2 separate regions of the Homo sapiens genome follow, and region 1 is linked to region 2. Evidence: fine-mapped expression QTL. A gene starts in region 2. The other region holds a variant in brackets. All regions are shown on one strand. Distances are between the middles of the regions. Region 1 has its middle 11 kb from the start of NPC1L1. Region 2 holds the start of DDX56 (DEAD-box helicase 56).

Region 1 (2,810 bases), 21 kb before region 2:
CCACAAAATAGAATTTAAATAAAGAATTGTTACAAAAGACAAAAATGACATTATACATTACTAAAAGGGTCAATTCATCAAGAATAAGTAATAATATATATGCACCAAACAATGTGACCTTAAAATATGTAAAGCAAACATTACATCATTGAAAGGAGAAATAGACAATGCAACAATAAGTAGTTGGAGACTTCAATACTCCATTTTCAATAATTGATGGAACAACTAGCCACAAGACCAGTAAGGAAATAGAAGTCTTGAACATTTATAAAACACTTGGACACTTGTATATATACAACATTCCACTCCATAACAGCAGGATACACATTTCTTTCAAGTGCATATGGAATATTCCTCAGGACAGACAGTACGTTAGGCGACAAAACAAGCCTTGTTATATTTTAAATAATTAAAATCATAGAAAGTATATTTTCCAGTCACAATGGAATGAAACTAGAACTCGATAATAGAAGGGGCTGAGCACGGTGACTCACACCTGTAATCACAGCACTTTGGGAGGAGAAGTTGGGAGGATCTCTTGGGCCCAGGGGTTCAAGATCAGCCTGGGAAACATAGAGAAACCCCATCTCTAAAAATAAAAATAAGTTGGGTGTGGTGGCTCACACCTGTAATCCCAATACTTTGGGAGGCTGAGGGAAATGAACTGCTTGAGCCCAAGAGTTCAGAACTTCCTGGGCAACATGGTGACATCCCATCCCTACTAAAAATACAAAAAATTAGCTGGTGTAGTGGTGTGCACCTGTAGTCCCAGCTTCCCAGGAGGCTGAGGTGGGAGGATCACCTGAACCTAGGAGATCAAGGCTGCAGTGAGCCATGATCGCACCACTGCACTCCAGCCTGGGCCACAGAGTGAGACCCTGTTTCAAAACAAAAATTAGCCAGGCATGGTGGCACACACCTATGGTACCAGCTACTCAGAAGGCTGAGGCGAGAGAACTACTTGAACCCAGGAGATCAGTGCTTCAGTGAGCCATGATCACACCACTGCACTCCATCCTGGCTCAAAAAAAAAAAAAGTAAATAAATTACAGGAAAAAAACCCTGA[A/C]AATTCATGATATTTGGAAATTAAACAACACATGCTTAACAACCAATGGATCAAAGCAAAAATCACAAAGGAAATATAAAAATACCTTGAGACAAATGAAAATGAAAACACAACATACCAAAACTTATGGGATGCAGCAAAGCTGTGCTAAGAGGAAAATTTTTAGCCATAAACACAATCAAAAAAGAAGAAAGCACCCTGGCGCGGTGGATCATGCCTGTAGTCCCAGTGCTTTGGGAGGCCAAGGGGGCAGGATTGAGGGAGACCAGCTCGGGCAACATGGCTAAACCCTGTCTCTACAAGAAAGATAGGAAAAATTCGCCAGGCATGGTGGCACGTGCCTGTAGTCCCAGTAACTTGGAAGGCTGAGGGATGAGAATCACTTGAGCCCAAGAGGTCGAGGCTACGGTGAGCTGAGATTACAGCACTGTACTCCAGCTTGGGCAGCAGAGCAAGACCTTGTCTCAAAAAAATTTTTAAAAATTAAAAAAAAAAAATTTTTTTAAAGAAAGGGCCAGGTGTGGTGGCTCATGCCTGTAATCTCAACACTTTGGGAGTCCATGGCAGGAGAATCATATTAGGCCAGGAGTTCAAGACCAACCTGGATTAACATAGCAAAACCCCATCTCTACAAAAAAGAGAGAAGGAGGAAAGAAAGGAAGAGGAAGAGAAAGAAAAAAAGAAGAAGGAGGAGGAGGATGTTGGGAAAAAGCTGAGTGTTGGGAGGGAAACTGAGGCAGGACTTGCATAATGTCCTCTGGAATGTGTCTAGACTTGCTGGCTCCTTGCTTCTAGCCCTCCTAGGCTCCTATTCCCATTATCTCAAGTAGCAGAACATGTTCCATATAAATGCTAAACTGTCACAGCTGTAGATCATGCGCCTGCCCTTTTGACCTCCACATTCTCACCACCTGTTTCTTTTTTTTTTTTTTAATACTTTAAGTTCTAGGGTACATGTGCACAACGTGCAGGTTTGTTACATATGTATACATGTGCCATGTTGGTGTGCTGCACCCATTAAGTCGTCATTTACATTAAGTATATCTCCTAATGCTATCCCTCCCCTCACGCCACAACGGGCCCCGGTGTGTGATGTTCCCCTTCCTGTGTCCAAGTGTTCTCATTGTTCAATTCCCACCTATGAGTGAGAACATGCCTCACCACCTGTTTCTTTGTTGGATTACCAATAAATACTGTGGACTCCCAGAGCGCAGGGCTTTCGCAGCCTCCATGATCACGATGGCCCCTTGGTGTCCCACCTTTATCTCTCAAACTGTCTTTGTCTCAATCCTTTGACTCCACCGGACTTTGTCACCCCCACGACCTGGTGTTGGGTCTGATCACCCCAACAGGAGGAGGGGGAGGAGGAGGAAGGGCGAGGAGGAAGAAGGAGGAGGGGGAGGAGAAGAGAAGAAGAAAGATTTGAAATTTTCTAACTGCACACCTTAAGGAGCTAGAAAAAGAAAAACTAAACTCAAAGCTAGAATTTTTAAAAATAATAAAGACTACAACTGAGATAAGTGAAATAGGGAATAGAAAACTATAGAGAACAGCTATGAAACAAAAAGTTGATTTCTTGAAAAAAATATTCTGAAGGAGCAATCTATAATACAAATAAAATAATACAGAAAAATAAATTTTAAAAGAAAAAAATCAACAAAATTGACAAACCTTTAGGTAAGGTGACTAAGAAAAAGAGAAGACTCATATTACCAAAATCACAAATGAAAGTGGGAACTTTACA
Region 2 (2,810 bases):
CGTCCTCGTTAAAAGTAGCTGACATGAGAAAAGCCTGGTAAATCCGGGGCAAGTGACTGAAATGAAAGAATCCAATCAGATTCCAGCTCCAAGGGCCGCTAATTGTAGTAACTGGCTTCCAGCCACCCCGCTCTCGTCCCAACTCCTACTCACAGATGTTTCCACTAGGAATCACACCCACCTCTGCCTTACCAGAGGAGACTCTTGAGCTCTTCTTCAAAGCCAAAGGAAAAAAGAAGGTCAGCTTCGTCCACCACCAAAAGCTCCAGGGAGTCACGAAGTTTCAGGCTGTCTTGCTGCAAGTGGCTTAATATGCGAGATGGGGTCCCTACTACCACATCTGGCTTCTCCATCAGCACAGCTCTGGAGGTGGACAAGACATCAGTATCAGGCAGAATGTAGCAGCTGGGATCTCACCCTGGATTTGCTCTCTTTTTTGCCACACACAAACCCAACCCCACAACACTGTGTAGCTTCATTCAGGTACAGCTTTGCTGCTTTTACCCACCTCTGAGAGACTGAGTCTTCAGCAGCTGAGACATTGGCCACTCGGACATCCCGAGCACAGTAGGTAGCCAGCTGCTGAATCATGGACTGTGCTTGCCGTGCCAGCTCCTTGGTAGGAACAAGAACAAGGCCTCTCACTGCCTGTTCTACCACCGGACCTGTCTGTAAGAATATGAATTAAAGACTTTAGCCAGCAGTGCACATCACTGTGTCCACGTGTCTCTACCCCTTCCAGCCTACCTGACCCATCTGCTGCAACACTACTTAGCAGTACTTTGATCATCTATCACTCTGCCCGCCTCAGAATGCAGAGTGGAGAGTTCTTTCCCCAGGCACTGACCCTCAAAAAGAATAACGTACTCTGATGTTTATGAAGCTACTTTAAATATACTAGTTATGAAGCTAAATTCTCACAATAATTCTGTAAGTAGAAAAGATAGATGTGCTCCCTTTTTATGTAAGAAAGAAAAGAAAGTGCTTTGTCGAAGATTACGCAAAGGTTGGTGGTAGCAGGGCCGGACAAGGATCCAGGTAACCTGAACTCCAGCCCAGAGTGTTTGCCACAACAGCACCAGGTTCTCAGGCCGGCCTGCACGGGTACAGGGCCAAGAGAAAACCTCAGACAAACGGGAACCGCCCTTCCCAGGCTTTTGGAGCTTGCCTCCTTCCTCCCCTCAGCTCTCTCGTTACCCACCGCCTTCCTATGGAGCAACAGCTGCAGCATCGGAATAGCATAAGCGGCCGTCTTCCCGGAGCCCGTGCGGGCCCGAGCCAGGAGGTCCTTCCCTTCTAGGGCCAGTGGGATGGCCTTCTCCTGGATCAGCGTAGGTCGCGACCAGCCCAGATCGGTGACAGCCTAGGAGACCAGGAGTGCGGTTTAAGCGGCGTGAAGAGCGATGGCGCGCCCCGCAGAGCCCGTAAGCCGGCTCCCCAGCCCTCGCGTGTACCTGAAGGAGCCGGGGATCGAGGCCCATGTGTTCGAAGCCCAGTGCTTCAGAGTCCTCCATGGCGCTGCTCAGTAGCGCAGCACGCACGCGCTGCAGGAAAAACGCCACCGACGCGAGCGGGAGCAAAGCAACAACCAATCGGCTTCGGAGACGAAGTCACTTCCCGGAAGTGCTGGCGGCCTAGGCTTCCGGTACTCGGACGGAGCTCTGCGACTGCGCAGTCCCTAGGACTGGGTCTAGTAGGAGGCGGTGGAGCGGCCGTGCTGGGGTCGACGGGGTACTTTGGACTACAGAGCCGCTCCACTGGCTCTTCCGGCGTTCCCGGACGCCGCTGACGCACCTGATTCTCGCGACCTGCAGGAGAAGCCTCGGCCGGGGCGAGGGCCGAGGTCGTGACGGGCATGACCGTCTCTCTGCTTGGTTAGGGTTAGTGTCCCGCCGGGCACATCACCCTATGAATGGAGCCACTGAGATAGACTGGGCTGAGGAGAACCGGTTGGAATAATGAGCCATGGCAGCAACTGCCTGAGAGAGAGGACCGGCGGGTTGCTGTAGGGCTCCCTAACCGGACTGCCTGTCAGAAACCTGCACAGCTTGGTTTCTGTTCTTTGTGTCCCAAATCTGACTCGGGTCACCAGTTAAGACCCGTGTCAGACTTCTGACCTACAGACTTGCGTCGTTTTAAGCCAGTAAATTTGTGGTAATTTGTTACAGTAGCAATAGGAAAATAATACAGGTGAGGACTAAGAATCCTAATCACAAATCTTTTTTTTTTTTTGAGACATGGTCTGACTGTCACCCAGGCTGGCGCGATCTCAGGCTCAAGTGGTCCTCCCACCTCAGTCTCCTGGAAAGCTAAGACTACAGGCACGCACCACCACGTCCAGTTAGCGTGTATGTATGTATGTACGTACGTGTGTGTGTGTGTGTATGTGTATATATGTAACTCCTCCTCCCCTCCCCCCTCCCCTTCTCTTCTTTTCTTTCTAGATGGGGTTTCGCCACGTTGCCCAGGACGGTTTTGAACTCCTGGGGCCAAGCGATCTGCCTTCCTCGGCCTCCCAAAGTGCTGGGATTGCAGGTGCGAGCCACTGCTCCTGGCCCATAAGTCTTTCAGTGTAGAAGAGGGAAGCAGAAGAGGTCAAAGTGGTGCCATGTGAGAGCTCAACCCACCCTTGCTGGAGGAAGGGAGCCAGAGCCAAGCTGGAAAAGGCAAGGAAACAACCTTTGTGATTACATTAGGCCCATCCAGATGATCCAGGATAATTTATTTTACAGTCATCTGATTAGCAACTTAATTCTCTTCTGTCATGTTAGGTAACATATTCATATGTTTCAGAGTGGTAGGCCATTATT

What was found. PIP is the estimated chance that this variant, and not a neighbour inherited with it, causes the effect. A credible set is the group of variants that fine-mapping cannot tell apart.
Region 1: its variant is the best candidate, but not a certain one, in a credible set for the expression of DDX56 in whole blood (TOPMed, PIP 0.70).

Annotation. Positions count from the first base shown.
Region 1 is chr7:44,550,911-44,553,720 of GRCh38, forward strand. No RefSeq gene overlaps it. Among named protein-coding and RNA genes, the nearest start is that of NPC1L1, 11 kb to the left of the region's middle. The variant A/C (reference allele first, on the strand shown) is at 1,067.
Region 2 is chr7:44,572,382-44,575,191 of GRCh38, forward strand. It overlaps DDX56 (DEAD-box helicase 56), which reads right to left and starts at 1,527. Exons shown (of 14, transcript NM_019082.4): 1 at 1,455-1,527; 2 at 1,202-1,363; 3 at 509-669; 4 at 193-363; 5 at 1-56. The coding sequence starts at 1,514. RefSeq lists an enhancer at 1,144-1,293.